Regions from separate parts of the Homo sapiens genome. Here all the other regions are linked to region 1. The links come from fine-mapping of genetic effects on gene expression. A gene starts in region 1. Each other region holds a variant in brackets. All regions are shown on one strand. Distances are between the middles of the regions.

Region 1 (5,000 bases):
GAAAGGAAAACACAGCATTAACCATAGAATAAAGCCCCACTTTAGAGAACTGGAGAACTGAAGTTGGCAGTGGAATAGGGAAAGATCAACAGGCCCCTTCAAGGCTTGAAAGAGTATCACCAAGCCAGGCACGGTGGCTCACGCCTGTAATCCCAGCACTTTGGGAGGCTGAGGTGGGCAGATCACGAGGTCAGGAGATCGAGACCATCCTGGCTAACACAGTGAAACCCCATCTCTACTAAAAATAAAAAAAAAATTAGCCAGGCATGGTGGTGGGTGCCTGTAGTCCCAGCTATTCAGGAGGCTGAGGCAGGAGAATGGTGTGAACCCAGGAGGCGGAGCTTGCAGTGAGCAGAGATCGTGCCACTGCACTCCAGCCTGGGCAACAGAGTGAGACTTCGTCTCAAAAAATAAATAAATAAATAAATAAATAAATAAATAAATAAATAAAAAAGAGTATCACCCAAGACTAACTATCCCTCCTTACGCATGCAGTCATTCAACAGATGTTTAACCTAGCAATTACATTATATATATATATATATATACCCAAGAGTAGAGAAAACACGCGTCCACACAAAAACTAGTTCACAAATATTCATAGCATTACTCAGCCAAAAGCAGAGATAACACAAATGTCTACCAACTGATGAATAAACAAAATGTGATGTATCCATAATAGAATATTAGCCATTAAAAGGAATGAAGTACTGATACAGGCTGCAACATGGATGAACCTTAAAAAACATTATGCCAAGTGAAAGAAGTCACTCACAGAAGACCAGATAGTGTATTATTCCATGTATATAAAATGTCCAGAATAGCCAAATCTATTGAGACAGACAGCAGATTAGTGGTTGCCTAGGGACAGAAGGGGATAGAATTGGAGGGAACTAGGCAATGACAGCTAATAGGAACAGAGCTTCTTTTGGGGATTAAAAAAATTCAAAAATTCATTGTGGTGATGGTTGCACAAGACTATTCATTTACTAAAAGCTTTTATTTATTTATTTATTTATTTATTTATTTATATTTTTACTTTTTTTTTTTTTTGAGATGGAGTCTCAGTCTGTCACCCACGCTGGAGTGCAGTGGTGCCATCTCGGCTCACGGCAACCTCCACTTCCAGGATTCAAGTGATTCTCTTGCCTCAGCTGGGATTACAGGCGCCTGCCACCATGCCTGGCTAATTTTTGAATTTTTGGTACAGACGAGGTTTCGCCATTTTGGCCAGGCTGGTCTTGAACTCCTGACCTCAGGTGATACACCCGCCTCGGCCTCCCAAAGTGTTGGGATTACAGGCAGGAGCCACGGCGCCGGGTCTGATTTTCAACTTTAGAAAAGCAACTGACTAAAGTCTGTTAATAAAAAGAAATAAGTCTTCGGTTTAAATTGTACTGTATTACCAAGTTTGCGGGATACTGTAAAGCTTATGTGAAAACTTTTCATAACACTGAAATTGGGAGAAAAAGCACCTAAAAAACCCGAACAACCGTGTAATCCGTTCCAAAACAAACTATGGGCGGGTTGCGCGGAGGCCAGCAAGGTAAGAAAGCAAGCGATAATCGCAAAGCAGAGCCGACTGCTTCCTAATAAAAAATGGACCTTTAAAAATTAAAACCACTAGTTTTCAACCACAACACTTCGAAATGAGAATATTAGTCACCGTTGCCATAGAAACAGTAAAGCCAAGCTGCCCGGAATTTAGACATTTTTTTAAATACCGCAAACTGAAATGGGTGAAAATAGGGCAGAGTTTAGTGTGAACCTAAGTGGCCGGAACCTACTAGTAACTTTCACCAGGATAAAAGTGACTCTGCTTTTCTAACCTACATTTCCGAACAGTGCTTTATAAATCACCTCTCGGGGTTAGTTTATCAAGCGCAAAAAAAAGTTTACCTTGTCTCTTCCGGAAGAAGGAACCTGACAAAACCCCTCCCGGTAGTATTGCCCACAATCAGAGCCAGCCAGCGCAGGCTTGCACCGCGCAGCAAAGGGGGAGCCCAGCATCAAGTCCACGCGGAAAGCATCTGAATCCCGGCTGCTGGCTTTACTGGCGGAGCACAGAGGAAAACCCCAAGCTCCTGCCTACAGCCCCGGCCTGTCTGGCTCCCTCCTCCACGTCCCCACTCCACGCCACGTTCTGTGCCTGGCAGTCCACGCGCCCTAATCCAACTCGCATTTATTTAAGCACCCGCCGTCTACACCGCATCATGGTTCCTCCAGGCACTGCAGGAAGAAATGGCCCCATGCCGGGGGAAAGAAACACCAAAAGGACAGCCGCGAGGGCTGAAGACGACCCCGAATGACGGGATGACTGCCTGCAACGGGTGGTCAGGAGAGGAGCTCCCACCCTCACCCCGCGGGTCGTGACACTCCCAGGGAAGGGAGGGCCCCGAGGGGTGCACCAGGCCCGGCCTTCCTGGAGTCCGCCACAGCCGACTGGCGGCGTTAAGAGGTCCGCATCCCAGGACCGCCCGAGCGCTCCTCTGCCCCAAGGAGGCGACCCCGACTCCGGATCCCGGGAAAACGGCGAGCGCGGGTACCGAACCTCGGTAAGGGCCGGAGCGGGCTGTCACCGGCCCCCGCATCCCTCCCCTGCGGCCGCGGCCGGCCGCTCCCTCCCCAGCTTGACAGTCGCTGCAGTCACGGACGGAGCGTCTCTGCCCCAGCGTCGCCGCTCGCCCGGACGCCCGCACCCCCGTGCCCCACGCGGAGGGGGGCAGTGCCGGGAAGACCTCTCCGGACCCTCCCCCCGCCCTGGCCCCCAGACTCCGGAAAAGCGGTTACCTGGCGCGCGGGTTGGGGCGAGAGCACGACTCGGTGGAGGAGGAAGAGAAGACAGTGGCCTCCGGCCCAGGGAGATTTGGGAAATTTGGGAGACTTGTTCCGCACTAGGTGACAGCTGTTCGCTGCGCACGCGCACAGGACCCCGGCCGCCCGATCACTGCGCCGCGCCTCACCCTCCCGTCGAGGGGGTGGGTGGGAGGCAGCGGCGAAGGCGCGCGCACCGCCGGCTCTCCCTGCGCGAGGGCGCGCGCGCCGTCACGTGACCGCTGGGGCCCGCACTTGGTGAGTCACGTGGGCTTACAAACAGCTTAAAGGTGCCCGGCACGCTCTTGCTTTGGGCTCAACTTCCGCGCTGTGGTTAACTTAGGCTTGCTGGCGCGCATCTTCTTGTCCTTTGGACACAGGCATATCCCATTCTTTCCGGAGGGGAAAGATACTCGCGTAGAAGGAGAAAACAGGTGCACAGAACCTTGCCCGGAAGCGCTGGCTGGGGTCCCGCAGGGCTGGACCTGATGTAGTCCACGCGCCACACGTCCTCCTGGGCGCCGACGCGCACCTATGGCGGCCTCCGACGCGCGGACGTCAGCGTGGCGTTACCGGGGTGGAGCCTCGGAATGTACTGGAGAGCCTGGCGAGAAAGTCGGGGCTCGCAGCTCTCCGGCGATGACAGCGCTGTGTTCCCGTTCTCCCTTCACCCGGTGGCCGGGACCACTGAGCCTCCTTCCCACAATGGGAGATCCCGAATAGGCGAAGAGTATCTTCGTGTCCCAACCCTTTAACAACTACCGCGCAGGAGCGTGTCAGCCTCTGGAAGCAAAACTGTCCGGTGTTGAGTCACCTACACCCAGCACGTCCCGCCCCGACCCGCCCAAGTGTGCTCTTAAGATAGGGAGGCACAAAGGTGACCCCAATAGGAATCCTGGGCTGGCGGTCCCTCAGAAACTAGAGTTGATAACAGTTTGGCCAGAACTGAAGTGACTAGAAATGCAGGTGCCTCCAGCGTCTGAGACTAGATAAGTTAACTTCCTACAACTTGTTGCTTTTCCTCTGTAACTCCGCCTTCCGAGGTGTCAGAAGGAACCAACCAGACCTTAAGCCCCTGTACTGCCAAAGACAGATGGTTGAGCATCAGATGTTTTGCAAAGCTGAATGATTTTTTTTTTAAACTTCCTACAGAGCTCCCAGCTGGGTCCCTTGTGGCGTTTTCTCTAACGTCTTAGCTAAGAAAGATTGGGCATATCTTCACACCAGTGAGCAAAGTTGGGCTAATATGCTGAATTTTCTGTTACATTATACTGATAACAGAATTTTAAAAATATATCGACACCGCTTACCACGCGCTTGAACTCGTTTCTCACTGGGGTGAACATTGTGAGGACAGATGGAATGTGATTAATTGAGCTAAGGCTAACGGGATTATTGGGTCACCATATTTCTTTAGTTGTTAAAAACAAAGTTCCGCTACACACACAGACACACTCTTTTTTGAGACGGAGTCTTGCTGTGTCGCCCAGTTTGGAGTGCAATGGCGCTATCTCGGCTTACTGCAACCTCCGCCTCACGGGTTCGAGAGATTCTCCTGCCTCAGCCTCCCGAGTAGCTGGGATTACAGTCGCCCGCCACCACGCCCAGCTAATTTTTGTATTTTCAGTAGAGACAGGGTTTCGCCATGTTGGCCAGGCTGGTCACAAACTCCTGACCTCAGGTGATCCGCCCGCCTCGGCCTCCCAAAGTGCTGGGATTACAGGCGTGAGCCACTTCACCCGGCCACACACAATTCTGAACTTGGCTAACGTATACTCAACTGGGAATTTTCCAAATGTGTGCATGTAACGTCAGGATCCCAACCATCCTTACAAGTAAATTGGATATGCTAAAATAATAAATATGCAACCTAACACTTACTTAGAACAGTAATGTGAGCTACACACTGTCTTCAGAGCTTCACATGTATTAATAAATACTTATAATAATTCAATGAATAGGTACTATTAATACCTCATTGTTACAGATGTGGAAACTGAAGCATAGCGGTTAAGAAATATGTCCACAATCAAGCAGCTAGGGTCTTTTGGAAGCCATATGCTATATTAGAAATCTTGTGCACCAGAATAAAAAATCTGGAAACCTGAAATCCATTTTCTTCAGAATTTGCAGATGCACAAATAACATTTCTTTACCATTGTGAATTAGAGTATGACTTTTTTTTA
Region 2 (5,000 bases), 420 kb before region 1:
TTCTCATTTCAAACACACAAAAAGGAATTAAAATGTTATGAAATATGCCAGGCCGTGTTTACTAATCCCTTAACCTCCAGAGAAAGGGCTTGCAATTAGTGTTACATTAGAATTGTCACAGCTAAGCAATTTTTTTTTAATACTAGAAGGACTTCAGCTGATTTTATGCTACACGTATACACTAAACATGCAGCTAGTGTAACGCAAAAAAATTAAAATCACAATTGAGGTGCCACACAGTAAGTGAAAATGGTTTAACGGTCTGTCTGGTCATAGAGCTAATAACCACTTTATGCAGAATGCAGTGAAACAAAGGTGCCTTTCTCAATAGCCAGAGTGCATTTGTGGCCAGCACTATTTTACTAAGGCCATATACAGCTGTACTTGGTTATAGGCACATATGTTAAGTGAGACTATAAAAAACAGCTGTATTTGAGATCGCATAGACCTCTGCACATTTTCTCCCTGTGGCAGCCAATCAGAAATCTTGCTGACAGGCAAACTTGTACAGAACAAATGATCCTATTTAGATTAATTCCTCTTAATGCCTTAACCAGGCCTACTTTCCTGGCATATTATAGAGAGAGCAGGTCAGTTCCATTCAAAACCTAGAGATAGAAAATTCAAGCTTGATTAGTTGATAAAATATATGACTACACTGGTAGAGAATGTGGAGTGCTTAGTCTCTGTAAAAAGAAGGCTGCTGGGCTCTACCCCAGCTCAGAGTTCAGCCACAAGGTACTCTGGAATATGAGCACCTAGCCAGGGAGCAGTCTAGGGAACTGGGTTTTAGCTGTGGCTCTTTCCTTACTGTTTTGGTCTTCACTCTCTATTCAGGACCAGGATACACCCATACCCTTTGCCATAAAAGTCTGAAATGCCATCCCAGTCCCTGGCTCTGGGCTTTTGCCCATAGGATGTTAACCAGTGCCCCATAGAGGACTGAAATGTGCTTACTTGGCTGGGCTTCCTTGCTCTCCTGCCTCTGCCATTGACATGAGAAGAACATATCCGGGCTGCCCACTGGGTCCACTAGAATGATGGGAGACCCACGGAGCAGGTGTGTGAGCTAGTCCAAGCCAAGGTCAGCACGGCTGTCCAGCCAAGCCCTGCCTAGATGAGAGAAATAAATGCTTTTTGCTGCAGGCCACTAAGATTTTGCAATTTTGCAATTGTTTGCAATGCGGCAAAATGGTGGCCCCAGTTAACTGAAGCAGTCACCAAAACTGCCTGCCCTTGGGCATCCCTTTTCCTGTCTATCCTCCGGGTCTCATTTATACAATGAAGGAGGGACTGGAGGACCTCTAATTCCTACTAATGACAGCTGCGGACCAGGAATCCTGGAACGAAAAGTGATCCAGACTCAAGGGTCTGAGATGTATTCAGGGCCTAGAAGAAGTTGAAGAAAACACTTCCATTGGTACTGAAGTAGGCAGGCAGGGGACTTTGTCTCCAAAAATATCGCCATGCATGTGCCACAACCATGGAAAAAGTCAGCGACAGAAGGAGGGTCTGAAAAACCTGGGCCGCAGTATGTCCTGATAGCCAGCTCTCCAATAAACTTGTTTTTCTACTGGTTTAAACCCAGACAAATAAGCAAGTCAGAGACAGGACTGGAGAAAATGGAAATCTTTATTTTTAAACACTAGTACATTTTCAGGCTGTTTTAAAAAAGAAAAATCATGTTACATTAGTTCAAAACTATGCATCAAAGCATATTTATTTAAACTCTAATTTTACAAACACATAATGAAAGAAACATATATTTTATAAATATCTACTCGGAATATGTATTATGAAAAAAAGTGTTTAAAAATAACAGCCCCAGATCTCCCTCTTTAAATATATAAAATTCGCATAACAATTCATAAGAATTCTTTCTCAAGAGCCAAAAATTTCATTTCACAAAGGCCAACAACTCAGTTCCCATCAGACACAATCAAAAGTAATAGGAATATTCAAAAATGTAAAAGTTCTGTACAAGGGAAATACAGATAGCACACGGGTAAATCTCATTAGCATACATGCCATTTGTGTTTTAAAAATGTTTTATAAAAACTGCAATTTGAAACAAATAAGTGAGAGTCCTTCCCTGACTGTGGAAAATATATAAATTATCGCCCTACCCGCTGGGTACCGAGGTGCCACCTGCTGGAGCTAGAGAGAGAGGTCCCCGTGTGTTTCCTGACAGGGCCCTAAGCCGCACAAGGGGACCCGCCTCCTCTGTGGCAGTGGCTTTTCCTTGTGGGTGATTCACTAGTATTTCCTTTCACTTAGAAAACTTCTTTGGGATCATAGAAGACAACTGCTCACAAGTGAAAGCAAGACTAGAGATGATTTCAGATTGCTGCGTCCAATTCATTGGGTGTATTTTGTATTTTTGGTGACCAAACTCTGGAAACCCGATTTACCACTGTCAGAGACACACCCTGTCACCTATGCCAGCAAAACTCACGGCACAGCCCCAAGGATGTCCCTTCATCTTCTCTCTTCCAACCCAAGCTGCTCTGTGGCCTGCAGCGATGTATGCAGACTACTGTCTCTTCTGGCACTTCTTCTGGAAAGAGCTCTTCAAAAAAGTGCGGTATACAGGGTCGGCCACATATTCATTCTTAAACCTGGAGCTCAGCACTCTTTGTCTCTTTCTCTCCCCTTGGATAATGTCTGCTCCATAAAACGTGTCTTCAAATCGCATGTCAGAGGCTGTGGACTAAAAGCAGCTGGTGTTATATTGCAAAAGGGCACGGCATTTGATCTTCAGAACACTGGACAAAGATCTGACTCGGTCAGCTGGGGTTAGGGTGCAGATGCCCAGGTCACCAGCTCAGGCTA[A/G]AAGGGCCCCAGGCATGGCTTTGGGCTTTCCCTCGCCTCTCCCACCCAAAGTGGGGGGCTCCATTTAGCCCTACTTTCTCCAGGATCTCCCCACCCTCCAACCCCAGGGACCTTCCCCAAACAAAAGCAAGATTAAAGTCTTCTCGTTTTAAACTTCCCTCATTTTTCATCTCCCCTCTGTTTTTGACAAATGTCAACAGTCATCTCTAAGTTACCTTTACTCCTACTTAGCTTTGGGCCTCTGCCCCACCCCTTCCCTGAAACTGTTCTTGCTGAATGAAGTCCTAGTTGCTAATTCCTGTGACACCTTCCTATCCCTAAACTGACTTGACTAGTCTGCCAACTAATTACTGCTTAAAGCTCTCTTCTCTGTCATTTTGTAAACCCACTCTCCTGCTTCTCCTTCTCTGGCTGCTCACTTTTGATGTCTCAGGGGTTCCCTTTCTTAACTATCTGCTCAACTACGATGCCCTAAGGTTTGGCACTGGGCCTTCTCCTCTCCACTCCTGTTCCCTGGGCCTTTGTGCCCACACCCCTGGCTTCAGTGTCTGCAGGAGATGCTCACATCTGCTCCAGCTCAGGCCTGTAAGTGCATTTCCCCAGCAGGCATCACAAAGTCCCTGTCTCAGAGGCCCTTCAAATCAACCTGTCCTAAATTGAACTGAAAGCCTTCCTTCTTCATTGCTGTCCTTCCTACATTCCATAAAAGGCACCACCATGCCCATGCACCCAGTTACATTGGCCAGAAACCTAAAGGCACTGTAGACATTTCCCCACCGTGTCCAGGATTCCTCCTGCATGTACCTTGAAGCCCTTCAGCCTTTCTTCTTGATCCTTACCCTATGGGGCAGGCCCTCACCTCTGCAAAGCACTGCAATAAATGCTGTACCTCCAACCTATTTCCCACAGTACCACTGGAAGAAAGCTCTCTAAAAGCCCTCTTATTATAAGACTCTACATGATCATATGCCCTTGCTTGTAATTTTCCAGCAACCTACTGCCTTCAAGATGACATCCCCACTCCCCAGGCTAGACCTACATAACCTGGCCAGAAGCCTGCCCCGTGCTCTGCTCAGACGGCATCAGTTGCAGGGCCTGGTCATACTTGCCTGGCTCAGGGCCCCATGCTTCTCTGTCTTTGGACACACTGTTTCATTTCTGTGAAAGTTATTCTATTCTACTGTCTCTGCCCTCGGCAAGCTTAAGGGTCCTTCTTTGGGACTCCTGTGGCCCTGACACATCCACTCAGTAAGAGGAGGGCAGTGGTAGAGGTAAGGGGCAAGTAAGTTTCTCCCCATCAGGGGAACCCCATAAAGGTGAGGATATTAGGGACTGTGTACCCAATTTTACATGTGTTCCCCACAGCAAACAATGTGGCTAGTATTTGGCTGCTGTTCAGTAAGTGTTTGCTGAGTGAGGGCATGTGGCTTTTTCTGTGATAATCAGATAAAGCCTAAAGTCTATGGTAGGCACTATTTTTGCTTCCCAATTCCCTACTATCTTGCCTCCTAAAATGCACTGGCAGCTGTTTTCACTGAGGTGGATGACTTCTGATGACATCAACACACAGCACATTTCACTGTGCTGAGACTGCTTCCCCTGGCTGCTGGCAGAGGCAGAGGTGAAAGACACTTTAGGACTTGAAAACACACGGTCCATAGTAAAGAAGAGAAAAACAAGAAAACAGCCACAAGGAAGCCTGAAAACAAAAAATGTACCGAAGCGTAAAGCTGTTCATGTTTCCAGCCAGTTCATGGGACAGTTACTCAGGGTAACAGGCCACCTCCACGGCTTCCCCCACATACCACCTAGTTTCACTAGAGAAGAAAACTAAATCATTATGGGCTGGTTGGGTTCCCTCTGCCATTAGGAGAAAACACTTTTGTTTCATTCATTCTTGGCAAAATACTTCCTCTGAGTAATCTTTCACTTGTGTAAGTGCTAAAGTTATCAAAGAAGAAAATAAAACATCTATGAAAGTGTTGCCACTGTGCAGAAACAGCAAAAGTCGGCCTCTCAAATACAATAATAAAACCGATTTACCAGGAGCTCTAGCTAATTATGCACCGTTGCTATGGTTATTCTGTGAGACAATAAAAGGTAACGGGGCTGCTTCTGAAGTGAGTGGAAAAGAACCCCACACAATCACTGAGGTGGACTGCTGGCTC
Region 3 (5,000 bases), 46 kb after region 1:
AGCTTCTTTAATAATTAAATATCTCAGTGGTGTGTGATCCCAGGGAAGTATTCTTGGCACAGTTTTGACATGTTTACTTGGTTGGAAGGACATTGTGGGAATATAATGAAGCCGAAAACATGGGAATATTGCGAGTCAAAAATATGGTTTTCCCTGTATTTCAATATCCACAAAACTGAAACATGCCCTACATGTGTCCTTGAGTATATTACTAATAAGGTATACAATATAAGGCTTCCATCTCAGAAGTTAAAGTGGTGTAGAATTGCCAACATTTATACAGAATTTAGTATTTGTCCAGCACTGTTCTAAGTGCTCCACAGGTTTTAGCACCTATTACCCTCAGTGAAGTTATTACCCAGTGAATAGTCCCATATTACAGATAAACTAACTGCCTCACTATGAGATTGAGTGATTTGCTCAATCACTATGAGATTGAGTAATTTGCTCAAAGTCACACAGAGCCAGTATCAGCTTCTCTCTCTATTTTTTTTTTTTTTTAAATAGGCGGGGTGGCTATGTTGCCCAAGCTGGTCTCCAAGTCCTAGGCTCAGATCCTTTGGCCTCAGCCTCCCTGGAGTAGCTGGGGACTAGGGCACACGCCACCACACTGGGCAGGATCTGCTTTTTAAAGTAGTCTTCTGTACTCTTAGTGCAAAGGAGAACTGGACTGGAAGTCTGGAGGCCTATACTTCAGACCTAGCTCTACTATTTACCCAGTTGTTTGACTTATTTTTTTATTTTTTTTATTTTTTTTGAGACGGAGTTTCGCTCTTATTGTCCAGGCTGGAGTGCAATGACGCAACCTCGGCTCACTGCAACCTCTGCCTCCTGGGTTCAAGCAATTCTCCTGCCTCAGCCTCCCAAGTAGCTGGGATTACAGGCATGCACCACCACACCCTGCTACTTTTTGGTATTTTTAGTAGAGATGGGGTTTCATCGTGTTGGCCAGTCTGGTCTCAAACTCCTGACCTCACGTGATCCACCCGCCTCGGCCTCCCAAAGTGCTGGGATTACAGGCGTGAGCCACCGAGCCTAGCCTCAGTTGACTCTTGAATGACATGGGTTTGAATTGCATGGGTCGACTTATACACTGCTTTTTTTCAACCAAATGCAGATTGAACATACAGTATTCACGGGATGTGAAACCCTGTATGGGGAGGGCCCAATTTTCCTATACTCTTATTCCTCAGGGCCAGCTGCAGGACTTGGGTATGCTTGGATTTTGCTATACTTGGGGGTCCTGTAATGGTTATAAGACCAATAACCAATCGTCTGTGTATACTGAGAGACAACTGTACTATAGAGCTGTGTCTCAAGTTTCTTCACCTGAAAAATAAGGATTCTACATCAGTGCTGTTGACTTCCCTGAAGAGTTATGAATATCAATACATTGATTTTTAAAAGTAGAAGCATTTGGTTGGGCGCGGTGGTTCACGCCTGTAATCCTAGCACTTTGGGAGGCTGGGGTGGGTGGATTACCTGAGGTTGGAAGTTCAAGACCAGCCTGACCAACATGGTGAAACCCTGTCTTTACTAAAAATACGAAAAATTAGCCAGGTGCAGTGGCGCACGCCTGTAATCCTAGCTACTTGGGAGGCCAAGGAAGGAGAATCGCTTGAACCCGGGAGGCAGAGGTTGCATTAAACCAAGATCACGCCATTGCACTCCAGCCTGGGCTACAGAGTAAGACTTCATCTCAAAAAACAAAAAACAAAACAAAAACAACAACAAAAAAGTAGAAGCATTTTTAAAGCAGTAAAACACTGTATGAAACAGATGTTATATTGCAATTATTTCACAGTCTTGGCTATTGAAGTAAGCCAATTAGGCAATTTACTAAATTATGACCCAGATGACTATATTTATGTCCCTGAAGTAGAATTACCTTTAAATTTCAATTGTAATTAACATTTTTTTGCCAGATGAAATAATTCATTCAGTTCTGATAATAAACCACATTTGCACAATAGCTGTATCCTTTTAAAGACAATTATGTAGATGATTACCTTTGAAATCACCTCAGAGACACTAATTACTAGTAAAAAATGAGTTTCTCAATTGCTCATAATAGTAACAATATAGCAAATTATAGAGTCAAATTTTGATGTTTTAAACTCCAGTGGACTCTGGAAAATATAGACATAGAATGACAGTAATCACTGATTTTTTTTTTTTTTTTTTTTTTTT[G/TTTTG]AGACAGAGTCGTGCTCTGTCACCAGGCTGGAGTGCAGTGGCACGATCTCGGCTCACTGCAACCTCTGTCTCTCTGGTTCAAGCGATTTTCCTGCCTCAGCCTCCCAAGTAGCTGAGATACAGGCACACGCTACCATGCCCGGCTAAATTTTGTATTTTTAATAGAGACGGGGGTTTCACCATGTTGGCCCGGGATGGTCTTGATCTCTTGACCTCGTGATTCACCCGCCTCAGCCTCCCAAAGTGCTGAGATTGCAGGCGTGAACCACTGTGCCCAGCCTTATCATTGATTTTGAAAAATGATTCTATATTGACAATAATTTTGCCTTTTTATGAGCCAATAAATTCTTATTGTTTATGACTGTTTACATTTAGTTACATTACTTGCATCAGACAAGTGCTAGTAGTTATACTGAACTATGCTATGGCCACAGACTCTCCTCCTGCTTACCTTGGATTTCTAAATACCAACCCCAGCTGACATGGAATAGGGCTTTGTATCTGGCGGATGCTCATTAACCGTTGTTAGCCAACTCTGAAAGTTGTCTTCTTAGCATGCAAATACTTGTAAAAATTTTACAGAAGGGTGACAAATTCTAACAGTCTACCTTCAGTTGATTTTCTTATTTTTTTTTTTTCAGACAGAGTCTTGCTCTGTCGCCCAGGCTGGAGTGCAGTGGCTCACTGCAACCTCCGCCTCCCGGGTTCAAGCGATTCTCCTGCCTCAGCCTCCCAAGTAGCTGGTGCCTGCCACCATGCCCAGATAATTTTTTGTATTTTTAGTAGAGATGGGATGTCACCAAGTTGGCCAGGCTGGTCTTGAACCCCTGACCTCAAGTGATCCACCTGCTTTGGCCTCCCAAAGTGCTGGAATTACAGGTTTGAGCCACTGTACCCAGCCCAGTTGAAATATTTTAATCTCCCTTGATTCTCTGGAGAAGAAATGACCTGTATATTTTCTCTTTCGCTTTATTTTTGGAGGCTGGCTGTTGGGTTTCTGAACACGCTCTGTACTTCTTGTGGTCTCCTAATGAATTTTAAGTAGTTATTACCATGATAGTTTACATTAATTTGGGCTGACTCACTATCTGTGTGTGCCTGTTTGCTTCATATTTCATCGTCAGCAAAAAACTGGTGCAAATGCATGGTGGGGGCACATGATATAAAACATCAGTCTCTAACTTGTATTATGGCTTTAATTTTCTCTGTGTCTTCACTTTATGATCAAAAGCAGAGTGGATTTTCTGCTTGCTTTTTATTGGAATGTTGGGAGTGATTAAGGAACTAAGACATATTTTGAAAAAATCAGCCTTTGATGTGATGTGATACTTACATGAATTAATATTGTGCATTTATATAATTAAAGGACCTATGCATTTAACTTATGCCTTCAAGAATCACTGTTGCAATTCAACACATCATCATATATAATATATAATACATAATATTATTATAATATATAATATTATATATAATATATAATATTATATATAATATTATAATATATAATATTATTATAATATATAATATTATAATATATAATAATATATAATATTATATAATTATATATATTATATAATATATAATATTATATATATTATTATATAATAATATTATTATAATATACTCTCTCTATATATATAGTGTGTATGTGTGTGTGAGACAGGGTCTGGACAGGTCTGCCCAGGCTGGAGTGCAGTGTCACCATCTCAGCTCACTGCAGCCTCAACCTCCCAGGTTCAAGCAATCTTCCCACCTCAGCTTCCCAAGTATCTGGGACTACAGGCATGCACCACCAGGCCTGGCTAATTTTTGTATTTTTAGTAGAGACAGGATTTTTGCCATGTTACCAGGCTTGTCTCAAACTCCTGAGCTCAAGCGATCCGCCTGCCTCGGCTTCCCAAAGTGCTGGGATTACAGGCATGAGCCACCGTTCCTGCCCTGAAATGTGTACACTTTTTAATTTAAGAATGAAAGAAGACCGGGCGCTGTGACTCATGCCTGTAATCCCAGCACTTTGGGAGGCCGAGGCAAGTGGATCACCTGAGGTCAGGAGTTTGAGACCAGCCTGGCCAACATGGTGAAACCCTGTCTCTACTAAAAATACAAAAAGTAGCCAGGTGTGGTGGCAGGCGCCTGTAATCCCAGCTCCTCAGGAGGCTGAGACAGGAGAATTGCTTGAACCCAGGAGTCAGAGGTTGTAGTGAGCCGAGATTATGCCACTGCACTCCAGCCTGGGTGGCACAGCAAGACTGTGTCCCCCCCAAAAAAAAAAAAAAAAGAGCCAGTCAGGCACAGTGGCTCACGCCTGTAATCTCAGCACTTTGGGAGGCTGAGGTGGGCAGATCACCTGAGGTCAGGAGTTCGAGACCATCCTGGCCAACAAGGTGAAACCTCATCTCTACTAAAAATAGAAAAATTAGCCGGGCATTGTGGTGTGCGCCTATAATCCCAGCCAGTCTGGAGGCTGAGGCAGCAGAATTGCTTGAACCTGGGAGGTGGAGGTTGTAGTAAGCCGAGATTGTGCCACTGCACTCCAGGCTGGGCCACATAATTAGACTCCGTCTCAAAAAAAAAAAAAAAAAAAAGAATGAAAGAGCCTTGCTGGGTGGTGGCTCACACCTGTAATCCCAACATTTTGAGAGGCCAAGGCAGGCAGATCACGAGGTCAGGAGATCAAGACCATCCTGGCTAACACGGTGAAACCCCATTTCTACTAAAAATACAAAAAAATTAGCCAGACGTGGGGGTACACGCCTGTAACCCAGCTACTCAGGAGGCTGAGGCAGAAGACTCACTTGAACCCGGGA
Region 4 (5,000 bases), 290 kb before region 1:
GTGATTTTAAAAGGTGGTGTAGAATTTTGACAAATATCTATTACTTTTATAATCAGAAAAAAATATTAAAATGTTAACATTTGTTAATATTTGTCACACCAAACATTAAATTATTTAACATGTGGTAGTTCAACTTTTTTTTGGATATCATATCTTATAGTCCTAATTCTTACAAACGTTTTGTTTGTTTTTTGGTGTCTTTTTTTTTTTTTGGTAATCTGGGTATAAGATTTCAAGCTTTCCTATGGAAGTCCAGGAGCTGAAGAATTATACTCTCTTCTTACTTCTTCTGACAGTCACTGTGACCTTTAGAGGGCCATTTAAATGGCCCACTCATTTCCATCTTAGATTACAAAACTTCCAACTACCACATGCTGAGCATCCTAAGCCCAACACTCACATCAGCCACAGTAATCATCAGTTCCATGAAAGGCCCATATATTTCCTAGTGAAGTGAAATTCTTGATGGAGGTATGATGGCAAATAACAGTGTTCACTTTCACTTCTCCGAAAACAAAATACAGTAGGCTAGACTGTGAGTTCCTATAAGAGAGCCCCAGAGACGGCACACCCAGCTCGCCATTGGGGAAAAGAGCAGTGGGAAAACAAGCAACAGTCAAGAAAAAAGAGTCATAGTGATGATGCCTGAAATGCTGTACAGTGGAAAGACCTTCAGTGGAAAATAACAACGACTCAGGAAATTCTAGAGTTTTAAGTCCACCTGTAAGACGTGCTCCAATACATTAAGGTCATGCAGTTGAACTTTGGGGAAAGTTCTAATTAGGTATGCAATATAAGGGCCTAAACTAAGGATCTGCTGGCTCATAATTGAATAAAACTACAAAGTTACTTCAATGTTAAAGACAATAAAGGCCTATATTTTCAATGAAAAATGCTCTTAACAGAAACCAATGGGAAGATTTTTACACAGTTTCTGAACAAGCCAGAGAGTTTGGCATATTAAGTGACTTGTACCTATTCAAGAGTGAGAAAATATCTTCGTAAAAATAAAAGCTTCTTTATTTCTCTGTGTGTCTCTTCTTGGTGAAGAGATAATGAAATTAGGTTAGATACATTTTGCTAGGTTAAGACCAACCAAAGAGAGTCAAGAGAGAAAAATCTAAACAATTTAAATAGAGTTAGATGGCTCAGCTCCAGTACTGACAAATCTTACCAGATAACCTATAGTTTGAAAGTTCACATTAATTCAGGAAATGTATTACTATCTTTTTCCTCATTTCAGACAGAAATTGAGGAAGGTTATATGCAAACTTACAATATAACAGGAAAAGAATTTGTAAGAATAAATAAATTTAGGCTAAAGGAAAATAAGGGTAGAAAAATAAAAGAAAGCTAGGAGAAAATATACCTTGGGAATGTGTGCATTAATGGAAAAATTCAGAACTTGAAATTAACACTAATTTATGAGGTAAAAAAGAAGCTTTGCCACTCACCAATTTTAACCTCTGTAAAGGTATTCTGCCTACATCTATTTGTGTCCTTTCTGGGACATTAGTGAATCGAACTTCTGGGACCGCAACGGCGCACATGACATGGGCCCACCTACAGGAAAGGAGACATTAAACATAAACAAAAGTTCCCTAAACTTACATACTTCAACTTGGTGATGCCAGTTCTCACAGATGGGAAATACACAGATGAGCAAGAAAGCCAAAAGCCTAAATCCATCACAAACAGATTCTGAACTGTAAACCTCCTGAATGATACCTGGACAGACTCAGTACCACAGCTGCCCAACAACATTGTGCCATGAAGAGCTGATAAAGGCCCACGACTCTATCCTATTAACGTGCACATATTTTTCTACACTTGATCTGCAAAATACTGAAATGTGGGTTTCTTATTTCATTTGATGCTGGAATATGCATGTATGTGCTTAAAGTACTTAAGCTAATCAATATGTGGCAAAAGATTAGTTCAATTAATAAAAGGTATGAACTGGGTATAGCACACAACCTTTTAAAATAATACAAATGTCATGAAGCAAACTTGTTTAAGTAGCAAAAGTTTTCCAAAAGAATTAATGCTAATCTTTAATTAAATTGTTTCTTGCTGCAATCTTACTATAATCAATGAAACCCAGAGACAAAAAGAAATGAAGTTTATCTCATACCCTAGTTTCCTACTTTTTTCACTTTCTGAAAAATGACAACTTTCCCGTTAATACTATTAAATGTCTCATAAATGTTATATCCCAAAATAAATATAAAGAATCATGAGGTTTGAAGAGATCTTGAAAGAATTGTCAAATCCATCAACCTATTTTTAAGCCAAAGCATATTTACTTCACTCAAACAGTATCAGACTCTATCCTGTCTTTCAAGACCACAGGAAGAGAGAACAAGTATCGATC[C/A]CACCAGGGCATTCTTCCACATCGAAATAAATACTATCATTCCACAGAAAACACTATTTCTTTTTGTTGTGGTCCAAGCATAGGAAGAGAACGTCTTATCACCCGTGTTTTTACAGGAACCACCTAAACCATCTCACAGTATGGCATCCAGTGCAATATCCAAGAACTAGTGAAGACTTTCAGTATAGTGCGAATCATATCAACCAGGACTGTGGAAGAACATCTTCTTTCAAAAATTAAGCAAACCCTACAGTTCCTTACAACAAATTTTATTAATGTAATAATGATAAATACCTTCACTCCTCCTTCCCAGCAATCAGAAACATGTGCACATGTAAAGAATTATGCTAAATCCACCATTACATTACACCAGGAGTCCTAACTCCAGTGCCCAGGGGGCCAGGCGGAATGTAAGCAAATACACATATACTAGGAAGTCATGGTGAACTGAGGAGTACCTGCCCCACTGACACTGGGTTCTATCCCAACTTGTTATTACTGCCTTATAGGGATATACAATCATTTTCAATTAAAGATGAAAATCTGGATTTTTATGTAAAAATCTCTCAATTTTAAATTTTAGATGCAATTTATAAAATGGTGCCTGGGTCCAACAAAACATATCTTAGACATGAATCTGGCCCTCAAGTGCCAGCCTGCAAAATCCGCCCAGGTTATTTTGACATGTCTCTATTCCAGCGGACCCTGTAATATGCTTTGGCCCCATTTTCAATATTAAAACCTGGTCATGAAAAAAAAATAAAATCCATGCAGAACAGTCATAAAAACTAGACTGCCTTCCTTTTATGTTCACTTATGACTCTCTTTCAAGACTCTCTTCATATTCTCCACCTGATCCCTTTAAATCTTAACATCAATGTTTTCTCCCTATCTTTTCTAATTTAGTACACTTACATTCTCATAAATTTGCTAATGTAAAAAGTAAATGGTTTTGTTTTATTATCATTGCTATGACTGATTTATCTGAAGATCACGGTTTCACTTTCTCAGGTATGCCCTGTTTTAACAGACCAATAGCATTCATCATATTAAACACCAGGATTCTAATGGCACCTGGATGATATGGGCTAACTCCATTTTCAAAACTCTGTGAGTAAAAGAGGGGTTATTTTTCATGGTGTCAAATACAAAGAAGAGAAGCATAACTTGGACTGCTCTTGCCCTGCCGAGATGAGAGTGCAAACAGTAGAAGTCTCTGAAGCACAGAATTCCAACCTCAGATCTGAGCAGCAAAAGCTTTGAAACCACGTGTACAATGAGAGGTAAAGCGAACTGTCATCCAAAGGTTCTAGAATGGAGAAAGAAAAATAATGAAATTCAACACAATTAATGTATTACTTACTTATTGTTCTTCGTTTGCTTAAGAGCACCTCCTCTCAAATTGCAGAGACAGCATTCCTGGGGGGAAAAGAAAATACCACATGATGACCAGACCCACATAACAAAAGTCATTACCATTCATCTAAATATTCTCAGAGATCCTGATTTTTCATTCTAAAATTAAAACCATCAGGAATTACATGAAGGTCTATCTCTGAGAAGTTCAAAAAGAAAGACAGCGGAGGGGGAAATGGTAGAGGTACACCCCTCAAATTTCAGGGTATAAAATTCTCCCAGAGGGAACCATCATGAAATGAACCTGGTATAATTTTAAATTGACACTGTCATCAAAGGAAAGCTGTGACACAGAGAACCTAGCAGTCCAGAGAACCTAGTCCACACACCTAGTATATGCAAGAATTCTAGAGCAGAGAATGCACACACGACGGTGTAGCCTTGTGCTCTGGGAATTCACTCCTGGATACAGGGTGGCTAATGAATGGAGTCTGGGCAGGCTTTTTTCTACTACAAGGATAAGCAAGAGGCTATTTTTAAACGATACTCTTTTCACCAAAGTAACACTTGCGCCTCACTCTTTCTGTGGGCAAATAGTGTTATAAAAAGTGTCCTGATCAACCCCAGCTATCCGGCCCGAGAAAACAGCACCAAGAAACGTTTTGCTTTATCCTTCCCACATAAGCTTAACCTTTCAGCACTCTTATGTGTCTTAGCTTAGAATGTAATTTTCTACTCCAAGATGACTCCAATTGCTACAAATATAGATTTTATTAGTTATTTCTCACTACACTCTCATGAAAAAGACCAGGAAAAGGAGGACCAGAGAGCAGTGCACTGCCTTCTCTTGACCTAAATTGTTTCAAGCTTGTCCTCTCAATTTTCTGCATTAATACATTTTTTAAATTGGTAGAAGTTATTTGGAGTTTTTTCCTCCAAAGTTTATATACGAAACCTCTTTACCCTGTCCACTAAAGTGATGTTCCTTAACAAATTTTGACAATTTTTCCTAGCTTTACAAGGAATCCATCTAACTGATCTACTATTAATGAGGTGTGAAACTTCATAGCTTTTACTTTTCTGAGGAAAACGATACCAAAACAACTGGAAAGAATCATGTATCTGTATAACTTTTGTTAGGCAGTAATAAATGCAAACAACTAGAAATGTCCAACAGGTTTGTGTGTCTGAAAAGTCTCTGTAAATCTATATGAAAATTCCTGGATTCAGAGTAGTAAAAGATACACTGTGTATATTGATTTGAATCCAT
Region 5 (5,000 bases), 34 kb before region 1:
AGGAGCCAGTGTGATCTTTTCAAAATAATGTCCCAAAAATAGCAAAAGAAAGAAACAAACAGCCACCATATCTTCCTCTCCCACTTTAAGCCTGTCAGTGCTTCCCTCTACACTTAAAATCCCAAATGCCTTACCATAGCCAGACAAGTCCACTGACCACCTTCCTATTCCTCCCAGCCACAAAGTACAGGTCAGCCTCCAGGCCGCTGGACTTGCTATTCTTTCTGTCCCCATATCTTGAAAAGACTGGTTTATTTTTATCCTTTGGATCTGTGCTTAAATGTCCTTATTTCATCATTCTAAGATGCTACAACTAGAATGTAAGCTCCATGGGGGCAGGAACATCGTCTGTTCTGCTCCCCCATATCCCTACCTCTAGCACCTGGCATAGTGTCTGGCACATAGCAGGCAATCTCCACATTTGTTGAACAAATAACCAGAAAGAAAAGAGAATAGGCAAATGTAGAGAGAGAATAAGTCAGTTTGTGGTTGCCTATGGGCTGGGGGTGATAGCAGGGAATGGAGAATGACTGCTTAATGCATATGAAGTTTCTTTGGGGGATGATGAAAATGTTACAGAATTCTATAGCGGTAATGATTGCACAATTCTGTGAATATACTCAAAATCACTGAATTGCACACTTTAAATGGATGCATTATACAATATTATTATATGATAAAATATATCAATAAGTGTTATATAAAAAAAAAGAGGCCGGGCACAGTGGCTCACGCCTTTAATCCCCGCACTTTGGGAAGCCGAGGCGGATGGATCACCTGAGGTCAGGAGTTCAAGACCAGCCTGGCCAACATGGTGAAACCCCGTCTCAACTAAAAATACAAAAAAATTAGCGGGGCATGGTGGTGGGTGCCTGTAATCCCAGCTACTTCGGGAGGCTGAGGCAGGAGAATCACTGGAACCCGGGAGGTGGAGATTGCAGTGAGCCGAGATCACGCCATTGCACTCCAGCCTGGGCGGCAAGAGCAAAACTCTGTCTCAAAAAAAAAAAAAAGAAAGAAAGAAAAGAAAAAACATAGAAGGAAAGAAAAAGGATAGGAGAGAGAAATTGTGGTTAACCTTCAGGTTAATAATTGTTGTCTACAAAAAAACTGACAAAAACTATGAATACTCTCACACCTCTGAAACCCATACATGGATCTCCTTGGTTTCCATCAGCCACCCTTGGTTGGTTTTGATTTTTTTTTTTTAAGCCTTAGAAGACAACCTAGTATGAATAGTTATACTTGAAGGAAAAATAAGACAATTACTATTTGAAGAAATCAAATGTTTCACATGGATTAACGAGAACAAAGATTTTGCAAATTTCTTCCTTCAGAAACAATGTCCCAAATCGTGAAAACTAAGAACATAAATTAAAGGCCAAGTGATTGTTTTTCATTTAAAGCATCGAAGGATAATCACCTTTGCAAGACCCGCACGATGGGCTCCTTTAGACTCCATGTATGCAAGGTATTTGTTGAACTCCCGGAACTCCTCCATGGAGGGTCTGAAGGTCATTATCTTACAGCTGGGGTTCAGAGGACTTTCCACCTCGGCCACCTCCATGATGGTTAGGGCAGTGTCTGGAGAGAAGACAGTAGGGTCAACAGAACTGAATTATTATATGCTTTAGGTCATTTTTAACAAATAGTATGTCAGCTCCCCCAGCAGGAACCCTTCTCTTTCAGTCACTTCCCATTCCCTTCTACCAGTCTCAGGGAGACTCCCTCATCTCTGCCTGAACCCCTGAACAAACAAGGGCCTCTAGTCATTCCTCTTGCCAAGTTCCCTATGCCAGGTAGAGAACCACTGATCTGACTATACTGTTAGCCTCCTCAAAACCCTTCCAAGTAAAAATAAATTTTCTAGGCCGGGTGCGGTGGCTCACGCCTGTAATCTCAGCACTTTGGGGGGCCAAGACGGGCAGATCACAAGGTCAGGAGTTCGAGACCAGACTAGCCAACATGGTGAAACCCCACCTCTACTAAAAATACAAAACTTAGCCGGGTGTGGTGGTACATGCCTGTAATCCCAGTTACTCAGGAGGCTGAGGCAGCAAAATTGCTTGAACCTGGGAGGCTGAAGTTGCAGTGAGCCAAGATCTCGCCACTGCACTCCAGCCTGGGTGACAGGGTGAGACTCTGGTCTGAGCGACAGAGTAAGACTCCGTCTCAAAAAATAAATAAATAAAAAATAAATAAAAATTTTTTTTTTGAGACAGTCTCGCTATATTGCCTAGGCAGGAGTGCAGCGGCGCAATCTCGGCTCACTGC[A/G]ACCTCCACCTCCCAGGTTCAAGCGATTTTCCTGCCTCAGCCTCCCCAGTAGCTGGGATTACAGGCACCCGCCACCATGCCGGGCTACCTTTTTTGTATTTTTAGTAGAGATGGAGTTTCACCATGTTAGCCAGGCTGATCTAGAACTCCTGACCTCAGCCAATCCGCCAGCCTCTGCCTCCCAAAGTGCTGGGATTTACAGATGTGAGCTACCGAGCCCAGACGTAAAAATAAATTTTCCTTTTCTCTTTTTCTTTTTGAGACGGAGTTTTACTCCTGTTGCCCAGGCTGGAGTGAAATGGCGCAATCTCGGCACACCACAGCCTCGACCTCCCGGGTTCCAGTGATTCTCCTGCCTCAGCCTTCCGGGTAGCTCGGATTACAGGCATGGTCTACCACACCCAGGTAATTTTGTATTTTTAGTAAAAATGGGGTTTCTCCATGTTGGTCAGGCCGGTCTCGAACTCCCGACCTCAGGTGATCCACCCGCCTTGGCCTCCCAAAGTGCTGGGATTACAGGCATGAGCCACTGTGTCTGGCCGTAAAAATGAATTTTCTAACCTTGCAAGTTTACAAAAGATGTTGCTTCTATATACCAGTTCTGAAACAGACTCTCACTCACATACGTACCTGTACAAAGGCCTAGTCTAGGCTGAGTAGAGAATGTTAAAAATCGTTAGTTTACTCAGGTGTGCTTACAGATTGTCATATCATGCCTTCCTACAGTAATTAACAAGCCATCCATTCAGCAAAATCGCCAAGCACCAGGCAAAACACGGAAAAGAATGACGATGGAGACAGAAAGGGATGAGGTCTGTCTTCACCTTCCAAACTGTCTAGAGGCTGAACAAACTTCAATATAAAAATGTACACAAGGGCTGGGAGTGATAGTTCACACCTGTAATCCCAACACTTTGGAGGCGGGCATATCACTTGAGGCCAGGAGTTCAAGACCACCCCGGGCAACACGGTAAAACGCCATCTCTACTAAAAATATAAAAAATTAGCCGGGCGTGGTGGCACACGCCTGTAGTCCCAGCTACTAGGGAGACTGAGGCAGGAAAATCACTTGAACCTGGGAGGTAGAAGTTGCAGTAAGCCGAGATCATGCCACTGCACTCCAGCCTGGGTGATGGAGTGACACAGGAAGAAGTAACTAACTCCACCTGGGTTAATGAGCAATCATTTTCCCAGAAAGGGGGAGAGTTAAGTCTTATAAGAAGGTATGGGAGTTGGCCAGACAAGAGAAAGGGCACTCTAGGCAGCAGAAATATCTGGAAGTACCGCTGGAACGGACAGGAGTTTAATAATGTGTCTGGAGCATAGAAAGGAAAGACTATAGGAGATCAAAGTAGGAAAGTAGGCAGGTTTTACTATGAAAACACAGGCTTAATCTCGCTGTCAATAAACAGGATGATTCCTTCAGCAAACATTTATTGAGCACCTATCATGAGACAGGCACACAGAATGCAAAGGTAAGTAAGAAGCACTAAAGTGGCTGCCTCAGGAAGGAGTCCCACCCCAACCTTCTTCTAAATCCATTAGGACCTGGCATCTGACAGCACAAACAACAAATCCTCCTGGAAAAAAGTTTTCCTCTTTTTTTTTTTTTTTTTTTTTTTTTTTTGCTGAATTTAATCTGCCTGACAGAAAAATTAGAAATGAGGGATGGGGCAGATAAAAGGGTGAAACGTCATGAGATAGTAACAGGTTAAAACAGAGCAGGGCTGGCCAGGGCTAGGGCTCATGCCTATAATCCCCGCACTCTGGGAGGCCGAGGCGGGCGGATCAGTTGAGGTCAGGAGATGGAGACCATCCTGGCTAACACGGTGAAACCCCATCTCTACTAAAAAATACAAAAAAAAAAAAATTAGCCAGGTGTGGTGGCAGGCACCTGTAGTCCAAGTTACTCAGGAGGCTGAGGCAGGAGAATGGCATGAATCCAGGAGGCGGAGCTTGCAGTGAGTGAGCCCAGATCACGCCACTGCACTCCATCTCAAAAACAAAAACAAAAAAACAAAAAAAACAGAGCAGGGCTACAGATAGTGATGTAGTCATTATTTGTTTAAAGAAAGTTTGGCCAGGCGCGGTGGCTCACGCCTGTAATCCCAGCACTTCAGGAGGCCAAGGCGAGCGGATCACACCACCACACCCGGCCAATTTTTGTATTTTTAGGGATGGGTTTCGCCATGTTGGCCAGGCTGATCTCAAACTCCTGACCTCAGGCGATCCCACCCGCCTCGGCCTCCCAAAGTGCTGGGATTACAGGCGTGAGCCACCGCACCCAGCCTAGAAAGTTTAAATGAGCATCTATCTCACAATGCACACATGAGGAAGTAGGAGATACATAAAATTTAAACCTCACCACCCTTTAGGAACTTACAATCCAAAGGAGAAAATAATCTGCACAAAAATATATTAACACATGGTAGAAAATATTCTGAATTCTCCCTGCCTCAGGGAGGGGGCCTGCAACAGGGAAAAACCTTCCAGGCTACATTCCTACCTGCCTCTGTTCACGTGTAGACAGGTACATACCCCCAAATTCATGGGCTTCAGGATAGCAGCCTCACTCTATATAGTATACACACAGTCCTTTAGAAGCATCTGGATCTGGTCCAGGCACGGTGGCTCACACCTGTAATCCCAGCACTTTGAGAGGTCGAGGCAGGCAGATCACTCGAGTCCAGGAGTTGGAGACCAGCCTGGGCAACATGGCGAAACCC

Alleles and levels. Positions count from the first base shown, and alleles are read on the strand shown. Sizes are in standard deviations (SD) of each study's normalised expression. Not every link is listed here.
In carriers of allele G in region 3, the expression in monocytes after Pam3CSK4 of the gene that starts at base 3,021 in region 1 tends to be lower than with TTTTG alone (large effect, 0.80 SD a copy in Quach 2016).

What was found. PIP is the estimated chance that this variant, and not a neighbour inherited with it, causes the effect. A credible set is the group of variants that fine-mapping cannot tell apart.
Region 2: its variant is the best candidate, but not a certain one, in a credible set for the expression of KDM4C in blood mononuclear cells (TOPMed, PIP 0.56).
Region 3: its variant is the best candidate, but not a certain one, in a credible set for the expression of KDM4C in monocytes after Pam3CSK4 (Quach 2016, PIP 0.83).
Region 4: its variant is the best candidate, but not a certain one, in a credible set for the expression of KDM4C in blood mononuclear cells (TOPMed, PIP 0.65).
Region 5: its variant is the best candidate, but not a certain one, in a credible set for the expression of KDM4C in whole blood (INTERVAL, PIP 0.75).

What each region holds. Positions count from the first base shown.
Region 1 is chr9:6,755,994-6,760,993 of GRCh38, reverse strand. KDM4C (lysine demethylase 4C) reads right to left here and starts at 3,021. Exons shown (of 22, transcript NM_015061.6): 1 at 2,791-3,021. RefSeq lists enhancers at 1,708-1,927, 3,128-3,487, 4,219-4,930 and silencers at 2,588-2,757, 2,848-3,087.
Region 2 is chr9:7,172,263-7,177,262 of GRCh38, reverse strand. KDM4C (lysine demethylase 4C) reads right to left here. Exons shown (of 22, transcript NM_015061.6): 22 at 1,615-2,710. The coding sequence ends at 2,534. Among named protein-coding and RNA genes, the nearest start is that of KDM4C, 420 kb to the right of the region's middle. The variant A/G (reference allele first, on the strand shown) is at 2,833.
Region 3 is chr9:6,709,875-6,714,874 of GRCh38, reverse strand. No RefSeq gene overlaps it. Among named protein-coding and RNA genes, the nearest start is that of LINC02851, 8.1 kb to the right of the region's middle. The variant G/TTTTG (reference allele first, on the strand shown) is at 2,191.
Region 4 is chr9:7,045,655-7,050,654 of GRCh38, reverse strand. KDM4C (lysine demethylase 4C) reads right to left here. Exons shown (of 22, transcript NM_015061.6): 16 at 3,738-3,793; 17 at 1,455-1,563. Among named protein-coding and RNA genes, the nearest start is that of KDM4C, 290 kb to the right of the region's middle. The variant C/A (reference allele first, on the strand shown) is at 2,375.
Region 5 is chr9:6,789,556-6,794,555 of GRCh38, reverse strand. It overlaps KDM4C (lysine demethylase 4C), which reads right to left. Exons shown (of 22, transcript NM_015061.6): 2 at 1,424-1,584. The coding sequence starts at 1,567. Among named protein-coding and RNA genes, the nearest start is that of KDM4C, 34 kb to the right of the region's middle. RefSeq lists an enhancer at 4,758-5,000. The variant A/G (reference allele first, on the strand shown) is at 2,275.